Linked DNA regions of Homo sapiens: region 2 is linked to region 1. The links come from fine-mapping of genetic effects on gene expression. A gene starts in region 1. The other region holds a variant in brackets. All regions are shown on one strand. Distances are from middle to middle. Region 1 holds the start of SPMIP6 (sperm microtubule inner protein 6). Region 2 overlaps FAM219A (family with sequence similarity 219 member A).

Region 1 (8,331 bases):
ATATTACAGATTAAAAGCCATTATAATTATTTTCTATAGATAACGTTTGCTTAAATTTACCTCATGTTTATCAGTTCCTTACCATTCCTTCTTGCATCTCAGACTTTCCTTCTGTGATCATTTTCCTTCTCCCCAGAGTATATCCTTTAGAAGTTCCTTTATTGTATATAGACCTGAGGGTAATAAACATTTTCATTGTTTTCCTGTAAATGTCTTATCTTTCCTTGGTTTTTGAAAGGATGACACTTCGAGAATTTTTTTTCTTTGTCTGTTTTTAAGGTCATCTCTTAAGCTGGTGAACTGCAGTTTCATTGTGAGGTGCCTAACTGTGGAATTTCTTCTATTTTTTTTCTCTATTTGTGGATTCATTTATTTTGTTAGTTCTGGAAAATTCTGAGCCTTTTTCTTTTTAAATAATAACTGTTCTTTATGCTCTTTCCTTCTGAGATTCCCATTAGATGTTTGTGGGATCTTCTCATTCTGTCTTTCATATCATTTAATGTTTCTTTCATATTTTCATCTCTTTGTCTCTCTGTGCTGCGTTCTGGGAAAATTTTTTCAGTCTATTTTTCATTTCACTGGACTTTTCAGCTGTGTTGACTCTACTCTTTAATCCATCTGCTGAATTTTTGGTTTAGCAAATACATTTTTCATTTCTAAAAATTCTATTCAGTTCCTTTTTACATTTGCCTACTCATTTTTTAATAATCTCTTATTGCTTGCTTATTTTAATGATTTCGTATTTTTATTTTTTAAATAGAGACAAGGTCTCACTATGTTGCCTAGGCTAGTCTTGAACTCTTGGCCTCAAGTGATCTTCCTGTCTCAGCCTTCCAAAGTACTGGGATTACTACAGGCATGAGCCACTATGCCTGGCCAGATTTCACATTTTTAAAAAATCATAATTATTCTATATTATTATTTTTTGAGATGGAGTCTTGCTCTGTCACCCAGGCTGGAGTGCGGTGGCATGATCTTGGCTCATTGCAAGCTCTGCCTCCTGGGTTCACACCATTCTCCTGCCTCAGCCTCCTGAGTAGCTGGGACTACAGGCATCCACCACCATGCCCGGCTAATTTTTTATATTTTTAGTAGAGATGGGGTTTCACCGTGTTAGCCAGGATGGTCTCGATCTCCTGACCTCATGATCCACCCACCTCGGCCTCCCAAAGTGCTGGGATTACAGCTGTGAGCCACTGCACCCGGCCCAATTATTCTATATTATTTAACTGTTAATTCTAATATCTGAAATTCTTGGGAGTTTAAGTTTATTGTTTGTTGTGTCTGCAGATTCTGTAATATGGTGGTTTGTTTTCTTTTATCTCTTATTGTGAGCTCATGTTTAATTGGCCGTTCTTCAAAGGATACCTGGAAACCTACACTGAGGATGTTTACCGCCATTGAAGATAAATATGTGTGTGTGGGGTGTGTGTTGGGGGGCAGAGACATGGAACTTTCTGGTTAAGTTTGGAATGTACAGATTTAATTCCTCTATCTTTCAGCTAGTTTAAGGCTTAAATGCCTGTTTATAGTGCTAATAATGGCATTTGTCCTCAGGACAATCCTGTCTTCTTAACTATACTTACCACTCATCTCCATGAGACTCCAACACAAAATAAAAATTAATTTTTATTCAGAACTTAAGTTGTTTTGAAGCAACAGGGCCCTTCAGAGTTTCTAGACCACCATACTGCCAAAAGCAGCAGCTTTTCCTTCATTCTTTTTTTTTTTTTTTAAGAGACAGGGCCTCGCTCTGTCATCCAGGCTGGAGTAAAGTGGTGTGATCAAGGCTCACTGCAGCCTCAACCTCCTGGGCTCAAGTGATTCTATCTCAGCCTCCCGAGTAGCTGGGACTATGGGCACATGCCACTGCACCTGGCTAATCTTTGTATTTTTGGTAGAGACAGGATTTCACCATGATGCCCAGGCTGGTCTTGAACTCGTAGGCTCAAGCAATCTTCCTGTCTGCTTCAACCTCCCAAAGTGCTTGGATTACTGGCCTGAGACACCATGCCTGGCTTTTCCTTCATTCTTAATACCACTGCTATCTGACTTTCACTCCTCGCCATTCATTGAAGCTGTCTGGCTAAGTTACCAAGAGTTACTACATCCGAGAGATTTCTCTGTCACTAACACTTGACACTGATCTTTGTCTAATAATGCTGTCTTTATTGGTTTATCTTTGATTTTCCTCCTAGTTCTCTGGCAATAATTCTCTGTCTTCTTTTATGGCTTTTTTTCCTTTACCTACCCTTAAATATTTATATTCTCCAAAGTTATGTCCTTGGCCATTTTCTCTCTCTTCTTTGGCAATTTCATCTCTTCCTATGACTTCACCCACCATTTATATGATGATGACTTCAAGATCTCTATCTATAACCCAGACCTCTTTCCTTTGCTTCAGATAAGTATATCTAACTACTTGCCAAACATCTTTTCCTGGATATCCTCAAATATTTTTGTTCTCAAATGAACTCCAAATCTCTAATCTGTTATTCCAAACCTCAGTTGATAGCATTAGCATTCCTCCAGCTGCCACAGCCAAAAACTCAAGGGTCACCCTAATCTCTCACCTTACCATCCATATGGTGACCAAAATCTGTTCATCTACTTTTTAAAATTCCCTTCTATTGAGTATGGAGTCAGGCACTCTCATATTTTGCTTGTGGAAATGTAAATTGTTACAACCCTTACTTATTATGGCAATTTGAGGTATATAGCAAAAGTTTTAAAAATGTGTATATCTTTTCTCCTAACAATTTCATGTCTAGTAATTTATCCTAAGGGAATAATTGGAAATGTGTACAAAGATACATGTATAAGAATGATTATACTAGCAAAATTTTATAAAGTACCTAAATTTTCAATAAGATTCCTTAAATACACCATTTTGTAATAAATTTTATTTATTTTTATAATAAACAATATTTGCTTCCTGAAAGGGCATACGATAATATATTAACAATGGTAATTTTAGGTAGTAGGATTTTAGACCTTTTTTCTTTGTGCTTCTCTGAGTTATCTGCATTTTCTACATTCAGCGTATATTTATTTTGGAGTTAGACAAAATAAATTATTTTAAAAATTCTCTCCTATTCAACGAATTCCTTTTTTCATTGTGACAATCTCCTTATCTCCCACCTACATCCTCCTTCCTCATCTGTTCACCCCTCGCTGGCCTTCCTGCCCTCAACCCCAGCCCCTGCAATTCCCTGACACTGTGGCCAGAGTGGCCTAACTCACAATTGAACCATGACTCTCCCTCCCAGGTTCAAAAACCTGGAGCCTTATGTCCACGCTCCACAACATAGCCAGAGAGGCCCTTCTTGGTCTGCAGACTCCTCTCTCACCCAAGGACTAAACTCTCCTGCTCTAACAGTTTCAGTTTCTGGTAGGTCCCTGCCCACAGGCTGCCTTTTCTCCTGACTGTCTTCTGCTGGAAGCCTCCTCCTCCTGGATCCCTCAGTAGGTCTGCCCTTCAGGTTGGGCAGCGCTCTCCCCTTTCTGGCTCTCCACCTCTGCTGGTGCATGTTCCACATCGGGCAACTCTACTTTGTTCACTTGTTTGCTGTGAGCTCCTCAAAGGCAAGGGCTGGCCCTTCCCTTTTGTATCCTGGGTTGCCTACAGATGAAGATACTCAGCAAAGTTGGATGGTACACACAGATAAATTCTCTTAGGCAGAGTCACAGTTAGACTCACAGATTTCCTCCCACCTGGCCACCAATCTTCAAGCACAGACACAAGTAAACTGTGATACATATAGATAAAGGCATGCATATAGGACAGTTTCCGGCCTATTCCACAGGCAGCCTCAGGGCCTTTGCACTTTGTGATCACTTGTCTGGAACTTTCAGCTCTTCTATTCTTTCAGGTCTTCATGTGGCTAGTTCTATCTCATCTTTCCAGTCTCAGTTTATTGTCACCTTGAGAGAGGGTTTTCCATGACCTAAGTAGCCCTCCCTTTCCATTTCCACTTCCACTACTCTGTTTATTTCCTTTACAGTATTTTTGAAGAATTTATAAAACTCATGTTTATTTCTTATTATCTGCCTGTTCCTACCTCCTACCCTAATGTAATTCCATGAAGGCAGGATTTTGTGCTGTTTTACATACCATTGTAAATTCTGTGCCTAGGTAAATGAATAAAACACACACATACACAAAGCTACAAATCATTACAAACATACATTGCCAGGCATCCAGACTGGCCATACACTCTGGCCTGCCCCTCCCCACCAATCTCCCACTTACCGGAGTCAGAAACTTGTTGGCTTCCCAGGCACACAGGGGTGGGTCCTTATAGACCTCCTTGATGGAGGTGGGAGCCCTGTAGGAGTCACTGTAGGTACTGATAGGGGTCCTGGTCTTACGGGAGAACAGGAACATGGTGTGGTCTTGGAGATGCCGTGGTGGGCTCTACCTGTCAAGGGCTCCTGCTGGACATCAGTGACCACCCTTCCCCTAGACAGGCCACACCTCCAGCCTGGCAGGTGCCCTTAGCTGCTATAATCCCCTCCTGCAGAGGATCTCTCAGCTTCCTTCCCCAACAGCCTTCCTGCTCCCACCCCACACTGATGCCCCCTCCAGGATGGGCACTGCCCATTGTGATATCACCTGGCTCAGCCCCATCCCTGGGAAGGTGAGGAGGTCTAATTCCCTCCCTGCTCCTGACCCCCTCCTGCCTCAAGCCTATCAAAAGAGCCCAATTTCTAAGAGTTCAGAGGGCCTCTGGAGATCTTCTAGGTCAGGTTTCTCACTGTTGAAGAGAAACAGAGGTTCGGAGGGGTTGTGACTCACCCAGGGTCATGCAGCAGGTCAGTGGCATGCCTGGGAACCCACAGGTGGAGGTGGAGTAACATGTGTGCCCAGAGGACCAGTTCTGTCTGCTTCCCAGCCCATCTGCCCCTTGCCCACACCCCAGGGAGGGAGCTGAGGCTGGCTTGTTTGATGCTTTTAATATCATTATTTGTGTTACACGATACACAACCAAGGATGATGGTCAATACTGCAATGAAAATGTTAAAAAAAATATTATACACGGCTCATGTCTTCCACACACCTTCCTGGAAATAAATTAGTGAGCACGGAGAAACCTGGCTGGGTGGCAGCCACAGCTGAGAGAGGAGGGAGTGTTAAGGCAGTATCTACAAGGGGAAGGGTGGCAGGAGGGCAAGCTAAGGCCTAGATTCTTCCCTCCAACCTCCCAGACAGGGAAGGAGGGAGCCACACCCCTCCCTAGACACAGAAGCTGCCACTGCCAGCTTCCTGCCTCTCTCTGCCACACATGCACTGCCTCAGTTGGAAGCCCTTGCCTGCCAGGGAACTAGTATGTCCTGTGGGGGGGGAGATTTTCCCTGGTGTCTCAGGGCCACAGAGATTGAACAATGGGCCCGAGTCACACTGCAAGTCAGCAGCAAAGGCAGCAGTCTAAATGAGCCCCCAAAAAGAGGAGGTACCCATGTTCTAGAAAGGTGAGCCAAGGAGCCCCGGGGTGGTGGTGGTGGTAGTGGGAGGGCTGGCTCTGGGGTCCAGATGATGGGGGCACAGGGGTTGGGGGGATGTTGATCTGGGTGGGAGAGGTGGGTTCAGATGGGGGCCAGTATGGGCCTTGTGGGTCCTGCAGGTACCTTCTCTGTCCTTGCCTCCCTTTGTTTGGCATTTTCTCATCATCTAACTTGGGTCCCTGCACTAGAGGAGGTAGGAATGGGTTGGCGGAGTGGGGGGTGGTGAGCTGTACCCCAATATTTTGGAGCTGGCAGTTCCTGGGTATGATGCAGGGAGAGGTACCACCCTTCCTAAGCCAACAGTCTCACTCCCTCCTCTCATTGCTCCCCATTCCAGCTCCCACCTCCCAGGATTGGTGTCCAGAGAGTGGGCTGTGGGTGAGTCTACTGCATGCCTGCAGCATGTGAGTGGATCCATGGGAGTGGATCCACCAGCACATGTGGGGTGTTAGCATGAGATGATCCACCTGGGCCTGTGCTATAAGGTATGTGGGCACAGGCCTGTGCAGTCTTAGGCTATCTGTGCTTTCATTTTTCTTCACACGGTGGCAGGTCTACACTGCCCAGCCCCAGGGGTGGGCCTTCCTCACCTCTTCCCTCTTGATTTTCAGTCTCAGCTTTCCAGTCCCCTCCCCCAAACCAGCAATAGCAGAAGCAGCTGTATACACATCTTGATCTACAGACACCCTATACAGCCACACACAATAGACAACCCTCCAACACACACACACATTCACAGACAAACACGTAATCCCAAACAGAGCCACATGTGCTCAGACATACACAGTCCTGATAGGAACTGCCCCTTCGCCTTTCTACAGAGACACACAACTCCGCCCCACCCCAACCTTTAGGTATACTGAGACACACAGAGATTGCCCCCTCCCCACCACAGAAATTTCTATGAAGAAACTCTTTCAGGTATAAAAGGATCTTCAACATAATTTCAGCTGCTGTTCATTTTCTAGTTGAGGAAACTGAAGACGAGAGAAAGCAAGTGGCTTGTTGAAGATCACAGGGAGGGGCCAGAGCTACAACCAGAACCCAGGCTTCTGACTCCCGGTCCAAGGCTGTCAGCCCATTGCACTGCTGAGCCGCCTTCTGCACTGTAAACAGACCACACAGGCACTTCCCTACCAGGGACACCCACATCTATGACAGGAATAGACTGAGGAGAGACAGGTCCAACAGAGACACACACCCACCCACCCCCTGACAGCCTCAGAGATACACACACATTCTGCTAAGCACTCCCTACCACATCCAAACAACCACATCCATAGAGCCACTCAGCCCACTGGATTCACCAAAGCTTGCTCCTGGATTCTTACTGGGAAGCAGCCTCCCACGTCTTGGGCTGGGGTGAGGGGAATGGGCCATTGGAGTCCAGCCTTACTCCCTGCTTCCAGGCTGGGATTGAGACCAATGAGCAGAAGCGTGGGTGAGGGTGGGGGCAGGGTGGGGTGGGCTGGTGGCAGACAGATAGATGCATTGGTGAGGGGCCAATTAGGACAGATCACACCACCCAAACCTCAGCCTGTCTGTAAGGCCCACCTTACCCTGCCCCACTCCCAGAGTGCAAGGAAGCGGGTGAATGGGGCAAGAGGAGGAAGAAGGCAGTGATCCGATGGGTGAGGGGCACTACCCGGTTGGGCAGCTTTGCCAGGCTTCCCATCTGAGGAGGGGGAAATGCAAATAGAAACATGGGCCGGTAGGGGGCGTGTGAAGGGGGCTCCGAGGTGCTGGGACCCGTCCCCACTGCCCTGGGCCTTTCTCCCTCCGAGCCCCTTTCCTGGTTAGGCTGAGGCCGGGGCTTGGGAGTTCATGGCTTCGCTGGGGTGGGGCCAAGCCCCTGGCTTTGTGATCCCCCCACTCGTTAATGTTGACCTCCCTGCCGTCCAGTCTTCTCTCTTGGCCAGCCCTGGGAAGCGGGGCAGGGTGCTGGGTGAGGTTCCCCCAGGTAACTGAACAAACGGCCCCCACCCCTCCTCAGCTCCCGGGTGGAGAGAGACCCAGTTTTGGTTTCTCCAGCTCCATGAACACACAGAGGTACACGTCCTACCATAGGAGGAAGCAATGACTGTTATACGAGGTTGGCGGCTGTAGGGGCGCGGGGCCGGGGGCAGGCAGACGAGCTGGGAAGGGGTCGGCCTCTGCCCGTCCTACCCGGCCCTTGGCGGCCCCGCCCCGGCGACCGCAGTGGCCCCGCCCGCTACTGAATGTGGCAGGCGGTGGAGGACGTGGCCTGGCAGCACATGCACGTGGGGTTCACGGACTTGGGGGGGATGAGGTCTAGGTCCTCGTCGTCGGGGATCTCATCTAACCGGTAGCCGTCCTTCAGCAGCTGGATGTTCAAATCTTGGTTGATCTGCTGTAGGCAAAGGGGAGGGAGGTCAGGCCCGAGCGGCAGGGAGGCACCACCCACAGCTCTGCGGCCACTCCAGGCCGTCTGCGCCCCAGTCCAGCCAGTGCCCTGGATATCAGCCCCGCCCTGTCCCGGGTCTGTCTGTACCCCCAGGCCCCGCTCCTGCCTAGGCGCCCTCCTTCGCCTCTGGCCTCTCTTTCTAGTCACCCCTCCCCATTCTATGGTCAACTTCACACCTCTGGTCCTGCTCCTATTCGGGTTTTGCCCCTATCTCAGGCCGGCTACTAGAGGATATCACCTGTATTTTACACCCATTCTATTTAAATGGCCTGCTGCAATCTAAAGCCCCACTCCTAACCCTGGGCTCCATGCACTTGAGGCCAGTAACCACTTCTCTTCCATCCTATCCCAGGCCCACCCTGTGCAGGGCACCACCCAGCCTTGCCCAGCCCTCTTTTTCC
Region 2 (8,331 bases), 29 kb after region 1:
AAGTAATATGTCCAAAGTCACACCTGGTAGGCAATTTGAATCTAATTTCCTCATCTCTCTTACCCCAGCCCCTTCTCAGAGACTTAGATAAAGTCATGAGATTAACAACGTACCAGAACTTACACCTCTGTGGGACTGTTGTCTTGCAAAGCAGTCACTTGGAAGGCTGGTACCTAGTTCAATCATGTCTCTGGAGCTCAACACAAACTTGTAGCCCCTCTTTAGAAAATAGCATGGATGCTTTCTGATCACAAGCTTCCTGCTCAATTGAGTTCTCCACAGGAAGGAAATATTGGAGCCACTGAAGCAGTCGATAGCTCAAGATGGAGAGAGAGACTGGCAGGAAGCAACAAGAAAGAAAATGCGTTGGAAACTGAGAATGGTGAGCCCAGGAGACAAAAGAAGAGGGCAGTGCAAGAAAAGGAGATGAAAGGGGCCTTAGCCACCAAATTCAGTTCTGGTCCTACATTTTAAGGGCATCTATATTCTAGGCACTGTGCTGGGTTCTGGACATATAAAAATAATATGGGCTGGGCGCGGTGGCTCACACCTGTAATCCCAGCACTTTGGAAGGCCGAAGTGGAAGGATTGCTTGAGCCCAGGAGTTTGAGACCAGCCTGGGCAACATAGTAGGACTCCATTTCTACAGAAAAATTAAAGAAAATTAGCCCGGCATGGTGGCACGTGTCTGTAGTCCTAGCTACTCAGAAGGCTGAGGTGGGAGGATCACTTGAGCCTGGGAGGTTGAGGCTGTAGTGAGCCATGATTGCACAGAGCGACAGAGTGAGACCCCTTCTTCTAAATAATAATAACAATAATAAGGCCCCTGCCCATGAAGAGCTCATAAGCCAGTGAGTGAAGCAAGTGAATAAGCAGATAATTTTAATCATATGCTGAGTGCTATGACAGAGGTTTGTATGTGTACAGGACAGAGGCAACTATCCCACTCTGGGGAATTAGGGAGGACTTCTCCAAAGAAAACTGATGGAGGAAGCAAGAATAGGAAGTATTAGTGAACCAGATGAGGAAAGGAGTGGCAAACAAAAAGAAAAAAGAAGAGAAAGGACTGGTGGGAAAGATGCACATGACTATAGAGCAGGCAAAAAGAACAGGTCAATTTTACTAGAATGTTAATGTTAGGGGACGAAGTGGCAGGTGATGAGTCTAGAATGACAGGAAGACTTAAAATCATGAAGGGCTTTGTAAGATATGTTCAGGGTTTTGGACTTCACCTGGAAATAATGGGGAGCCACTGAAGGATTTTCAGCCCATTGTCAGATTTAGATAGACTGACTGCTCTGGGAGCAGGTCCAAGGAATAGGCAGGAATGATTAAACTGGAGGCAGGGAGGCTAGATAAAGGTCATTGCAGTAGGTGACAAAGCTTGAAAAAGTCAGTGTCAGTGGGGTTGGAAAAAAGGAGGTGGAGAAGAAAAACATGTTGAGGTCAAACCGCTGGGGCACTAAGGCTGACTGGATCTGGGTTTGAGGGAAAAGACTTGAGCTAGGATGACTCCCAGGTTTCCTCCTGACTCAGGTGACTGCGTGAATTGTGATGCCACCAAATAAGATGGAGAAACAGAAATAAGAGTAAGGCTTGTGGTTTTGTTTTGTGTGTAAATATGTGTATGTTTATAAATAAGAAGGGCTTAGAGAAAAAAAATTAAGGAACACCAATATTGAAAAAGTAAGCAGAAGACTGACAGCTACGGTCAGAGGGGTAGGGAACCAAGAAGAGATCAGAGTCATGGATGTCTAGGAAAGGCAGAGTTTTGAGAAGAATAATGTAAGACAGAGGAACCAGAACCGGAGTCCTAGAGGGGCTCTTGTATGACAAGAGAGACTGGAAAATAGTTGAGGCCGGGAGAAAGAACCAGCATAGAATGGCCACTTGTTTGAAGACATGAGGGAGGACTCAAGATGCTGTTCTCAGGCTTGCTGATATTTCAGCAAAAACTTATTTTGTTCTAAGAAATTATGGGTCTGATTCTTGTGAGGCTTGCAAGTCCTCACCGAGAGACATTCTCTAGTAGAAAAGTCCAGTCACGGTCCAGAGATCATGGCACATTTGCTATCTTTTAGGAAGTGTGGGCAAGGGGTGGGCTGAAGGCAAGGGAGGCTGACCAGGGCTTGGCCAAACTAGAGGCAATAGTAAGCAGTTAGGTGGGTAGTCGCCCCAAATTCTGGCTGCACCAGAGTCCCCTGACTTAGTTTTGGCCTATCGTCCCCAGGCTATGGCAAAAAGCAGCAAAGACCCTTGACTTCTAGTCCTTGAGGCAGGGGGCCAAAGCCAACACGGACCTACCAGGAGTGGCCTGAGAATCCAGAACACAGAGAGGAGCAGCCTGCGTTGCGATTTTCCCAGAACCCACAACACTTGTTCCACCAACAGTGAACATCCAGAGGGAGGCTCAACCATGGAACCTATACTCTGTTATGTGGTAATCATGCTTTCTCACCTTTTTGTTTTTTGAAATAGGGTCTCACTCTGTCACTCAGGCTGGAGTGCAATGGCACGACCTCAGGTCACTGCAATCTCCACCTCAGCTCAAGCAACCTGCCACCTTAGCCTCCCGAGGAACTAGGACTACAGGTGTGTACCACCACACCCAGCTAATTTTTTGTAGTTTTGGTAGAGATGGGGTTTTGCCATGTTGCCCAGGCTTGTCTCAGACTCCTGAGCTCAAGCGATCTACCCCCTCGGCCTCCCAAAGTGCTGGAATTACAGGCATGAGCCACCGCGCCCAGCCCTTTCTCACTTTTATTATTATTATTCCTTATGCCTAGTCAAAACTTTCTCACATTTAAACCCTTCAATAATAGTTTTCTGTAAAAATAAACAAATGAGGCCCACAGTGGCTCATACCTGTAATCCAGCACTTTGGGGGGCCAAGGCAGGCAGATCACCTGAGGTCAGGAGTTTGAGACCAGCCTGGCCAACATGGTGCAACCCCGTCTCTACCAAAAATACAAAAATTAGCTGGACATGGTGGTGGGTGCCTGTAATCCCAGCTACTCGGGAGGCTGAGGCAGGAGAATCTCATGAACCTGGGAGGCGGAGGTTGCAGTGAGCCGAGATCGTGCCACTGCACTCCAGCCTGGGCAACAAGAACAAAACTCTGTCTTAAATAAATAAATAAAATAAACAAATGAATAAATAAAAATAATCACTTGACTTAATTATTAGTCTTCAGAGCCAGTAATGTAGTCAGTAACCTGCATGCCTCCACTGTGCTTGGAGAAGTTGAAAAATGTGCAGTTAGTGTTAAGGGGAGATCCTTGTTCTTCTGTCTCCTGCATGCAAACACTGACACCTATGAGTGAGTGGGCAGTGCACTGAGGTGCAGGAAAGCCAGGCTCACACGAGGGCAGAGGACTGGCAGCCTCAATGAGGTTAGACTGACTTTTCCCAAAACTCTGACCTTGCGGACCTACTGCATTATTTAAAAAAAAAATCATATTCTGGGAAAGAACAGCCTGTGCTTGGCTATTTACAAAAGTAGGTCTGTGAATGCTGTTAGAGTTGAATGAATGTTTTATGCTATTTGGTGCATTTTAAGTAACCCAATAGGCTGAAATATTTTTGTTGTGAAGGGAATGCTTGTTCTGTACAATTAAATTTGGTTAGAATTAGAAACTCCAAAATTCCTTTGTTCCTATCAGGGGAGCAATAGTTTGTCTTCACCTACTCTGCAACCTTGTGGCTGTCAGAGGGTTAGTTATAAGGCCTTCACATCTGGGCTTCACAGAAGCACAGAATAGCCATTCAAG[G/C]AGTATTTTGGCTTTTATATGGACACCTAATTTCACAGGCAGTAGGATCCTGAATTTTTTATATAATGACTTTCACTCTTTCCACCACTCCCTTCTATTTTACACTCCAATGAAAACATCCCGAATGTTGAAACATCAGTGATTTTGTCCTGTTCCTATGTTTAGGAGAGGAATTTTCAGCTCCTTGTTATGTCCAGGTGGGGCTAAGATGAGTTGTATCTTTATAGATAGGAGAAATGATGGTATATAGAAAGAACCCAAAAATCCCAGATCCTAGTCTATAGTACACCCTGGGCTGTTTTGGATTCTGAGATAATTTTTCATCCTCCCCTTCCCCACCAATAGCCCAGCTCTAGCTAGCTGCAAATTGTCTGGATCGAGCTGCTTTGACATGCTGATGTTATCGGCCTCACAGTGCCTGGAGCATGCAGATAGGAACAGGCAATGGCGCCGTTTCACTGGACGTAGTAATGTAATTTAGTTTCTGAAATCCAAGTATAAAATCTTGAAAGCTGACTTTAAAATCTGCCTCAGGAGGGATGGTGGTGGTGTGGAATTCCCAGCAGAACCATCTAAATAGGGAAATGGCTTCTGTCATGTATTAATAAACAGTTCAGAGCAATGGAAAAATAGAGAGAGGATTGCAGGGAAAGTGAGTGCCTAGTCTTTCTTCCTCCTCCCTCCTCTGAACTGGGCTGCCAGGTGAGGACCATTCCATTTGTGTGATCCCCAGGTTGGGGCTAGAAGCACCTCTCCCTGAGCATTCCTGTGAGGCCCCTGCTGCTAGGAAGATGGAACAGCAGTTTGGGTGGTCTCAACCAGCACTTTTTTTTTTTTTCTCCAGACCAGGCTAAGAATGATGGCAAAGGAGTAGTCACTTGCCTTTACTTCTATCTCCCCAACCTCATCTTGTGCCACTCTTCCCCAGGCTTACTAGTTTGCACACTGGTCTTCTTTACTCCTGATGGGGTATCAATATCCTTTTTAACCTCATGCTCCCCTTCTGGTTAAATTTTACTACATCCTTCAGGCCTCAGCTGACACACATCACCTCTTGTTTTTTTGAGACAGTGCCTTACTCAGTTGCCCAGGCTGGAGTGCAGTGGCGCAATCTCGGCTCACTGCAGCCTCAGCCTCCTGGGCTCAAGTGATCCACCTACCTCAGCCTCCCAAGTAGCTGGGACTACAGGTGCACGCCACCACACCTGGCTAATTTTTGTATACATACATATTTTTGTTGACATGGAGTCTACGTTGCCCAGGCTGGGACACATCACCTCTTAAAAGAAGCTTCCCATAAATGCCAGGCTCAGTTAGATCCTTCTATAATGTAGTCTCACAGCCCCTGCTCCCCCATACATTTCTTTCATGCACTTAGCAAATTTTATTTAAATGACTATTTGTATAATTTGTTTAATAAATGTTCGTGAAGGTAGGGACCATGCCTGCCTCCACTATGTCCTCCCAATGCTTGGCATAGAAAATGAAAGGCCATAATCTGAAAAGACAAACACTGCCTTCTACTTGATTTGAAGGCATAGCAAGGATCTTTCTATAACAGAGAGGTGGCAAACACTCCTGACCTATCAGACCATGCTGGAGTCTTGTCTAATGGTGTCCCACAGACAGATGTTGCATTTTGTGCTCTTTGTAGGACTACTTCTTCACTGTAAGCCTCTGGTCAGGGGCTCAAAGTTATTTTGGAGAACAGCCAAAGTAGGAGTCCCCCAAACCCTCCTTCAACTCACCTGAAGGCTTGGCCTAGTTAAAACTTCACTTAAGGTCCACAGCCAAAGCAGCAACTCAATTTCAGGTCAACTTCTCATGGAGACTAACAACAAACTGAGCAGATAGATGCAGCCTTCTTTGTGACTAAAGGGCTAAGATCAGCCATTAGCTTGCAGATATATACTTCCACAATCAAATGATTAAGGCCCAACTCTTGTTACTGAGTTCGGAAGAATGGGAAACCAGCTTGGAATCCAAACCATCAGAAAACTCTTTGGAGGGAGATAGGAGTGGGGCTGTTCTGATCCTCTGTCTGTTCAAAGTGCTTTCTGACAACCTGGTTCTTGTAACCATGTTCAACAGGCAGTAAACACCCAAGGCAGGGAAACTCTTCAGGATTTAGACATAAGGGCAAACAGATGGTAAAGGAAAATGCAAGAAACCTCCTGGAATAGTAAACACAACCCCTGTCTAGAGAGTAGGGCCTATGAACAGTTTACCTGTGAACTGCACTGACTCTGAGAGTCTAGACAGGTTGTTTCACTTTCTGAGCTTCTAGGTCTGTTTTTATTCAGGCCCTGAGATCCCAGAAAGAGCCTCCAGGGTAGAGAGTAAATGAGTTCTCCCAGGTCAATGCCAGATGGCAGCCCTGGGATTAGAATTCATGGGCCCTTGTTTGCAGCCAGCTGTGCCCTCCCCTGAGTCCTGCACTGTTTCTTCTTCTGAATGCTCAGGATTGTATTCAATTTAGTAAGGTTTGTGGACACATAATCACAGCTCCTAAATAAAACAATTACTACAGAGCATCCGCTGTGAGGAAGACAAACACTGGGCACCTTTGCCCCTGAGAGCAGACTGAGAGCGAGCTCTGGCTGAGTTTAGGTCTGTTCCACTTGAACAAAACCCAACACAAACAAACCCTCTTGGGATCTGGCAAAGTCCTCATCTGTTCTTGTTTCTTCTCCAGGCTTCCTTGTGCATTAAAAGAGCCTGTGCTTAAACCCACAGTAAGGGCCTCTGCTGGAAGCTGGAATGTGCTGTTTCCTGGAGCAAGAGAGAGGCCAAGCTGAGGGACAGCCTGGATCCAGATCCTCTGCACATTTTTTCACCCATAAATTCATTACTACATTGTCAACGGCCCCATCTCCAGGAGCACTATCATGCAACACCTCTTGAGGTGGGCTGGGGGCAGCCCTAGTCCTTCTAGCCCAAACTCTGCCAGGCGTACTCAAGGCTCAGTGAACACCAAAAGTTCTTTTCTTCTCCTTGCTCTCCCCTCTCATTATGACTGGTTGGCACTAGAAGAGGGAGCCTGCAGCTGTTCTCTCAGGGTTTCATTATTTAGCATCAATTTCTTTGACCAGGAGGTTCTTTGAGGTATAATGCATGCCTTTGGGCTTGACAGTTCCTTCAATAAGGGACCCAGAAGCCTAAAAGAGGTGAAGAAAACAAGGTCTCAAAAGGAAGAGGGCCTTGCACAAATTCAGAGCAGGGCTGGTTGAGAGGAACAGGGTCCTGAGTGTTTTCATTGAGCCTCAATCCAGGCAGACTTACCCTCCTCACTCACCAGCTCAGGGAATCATAAAGTGAGAGCTGCTCTGATTCATTTAGCCATGGAAGAGACCTGTAGGTAGAGGAGGAACTTTCAACCAGAAAATTTAATCCCTAGTATATGATTATGATTCTTCTGACCTTTCAGACTCCTCACACATGACTTGGGGAAGTGGGAGGAAGTCCCTCTATAGTGTGAATTTAACTCTTCTCTGCTTGTGGGCTCTGGGGGCCATGTGCATGACTAGGGTTGGGGTGGCAGGTTGCAAGCTCCAGACTCGCTAGTTTTATTTCTGCTTCCATTTGCTACAACACCCACCTCATGTCAATGTCCTTCCCTCTGCAAAAAAAGGCATATTTAAATTAAGTATATTCCTATTGGTAGGCCGAAAGTCCAGTGATGGCTCATGAAAGGATCCTGCTTCAGGCCTTGAAACCTGCTCAGTGTCTCTCCTTAATTTCCCCTCCTTCATGCTCCCTTCGTCCAGATTGAAGAGGGAAGTACAGGGGTATTAGAGACAGAGGACCTTTTAATATTCCCTTGTTCCACTGGTTTCTTACCCCATCCCCAGGACTCCTACTATCCTGAAGTATTAGGGTATCAGGCCCTGGCCAGGGACAGCTTGGGAGATGACATAATTGTCTTGCAAGCTTACTTCACCTTCAGAGTGATGGTGACCTCAACAGAGAGCTAGACATGTGTGGGGGGAGGTAGGGCAGCACCTGGAGGGGATAAGGGGGAATCCCTAGACCTACAGGGCTGGTCTTGGAAAGAGAAGAGGTCATGCCCCTTTCACAGCGAAAGACATGTGCAGGAAGGCTATGCAAAATTAAATAGGCATGGTAGGGCTCAGTGGCTCATCCCTGTAATCCCAGCACTCTGGGAGGCTGAGTTGGGTGGATCTCTTGAGCCCAGGAGTTCGAGACCAGCCTAGGCAACATGTCAAAACCCTGTCTCTACAAAACAAAACAAAAAAAGAAAACACATGCTGGGAGGCTGAGGTGGGCGGATCACAAGGTCAGGAGACCGAGACCATCCTGGCTAACATGGTGAAACCCCATCTGTACTAAAAATATGAAAAATTAGCCTGGTGTGGTGGTGGGCGCTTGTAGTCCCAGCTACTCAGGAGGCTGAGGCAGGAGAATGGCGTGAACCCAGGAGGTGGAGCTTGCAGTGAGCCGAGATCGCGCCACTGCACTCCAGCCTGGGTGACAGAGCAAGACTCCGTCTCAAAAAAAAAAAAAAAAAAAAAGACAAAAAACAAACAAACAACAACAACAA

Evidence for each region. PIP is the estimated chance that this variant, and not a neighbour inherited with it, causes the effect.
Region 2: its variant is fine-mapped to the expression of SPMIP6 in cerebellum (GTEx, PIP 0.99).

The regions. Positions count from the first base shown.
Region 1 is chr9:34,393,247-34,401,577 of GRCh38, forward strand. SPMIP6 (sperm microtubule inner protein 6) reads right to left here and starts at 4,564. Exons shown (of 7, transcript NM_032596.4): 1 at 4,253-4,564. The coding sequence starts at 4,387. FAM219A (family with sequence similarity 219 member A) reads right to left here. Exons shown (of 6, transcript NM_001184940.2): 6 at 4,938-7,876. The coding sequence ends at 7,718. It overlaps LOC124902144 (a long non-coding RNA gene), which reads left to right. Exons shown (of 2, transcript XR_007061464.1): 2 at 1-3,088.
Region 2 is chr9:34,422,356-34,430,686 of GRCh38, forward strand. All of the region lies in intron 1 of FAM219A (family with sequence similarity 219 member A), which reads right to left. It overlaps LOC124902145 (a long non-coding RNA gene), which reads left to right. Exons shown (of 3, transcript XR_007061465.1): 2 at 283-382; 3 at 2,231-2,490. Among named protein-coding and RNA genes, the nearest start is that of SPMIP6, 29 kb to the left of the region's middle. The variant G/C (reference allele first, on the strand shown) is at 3,771.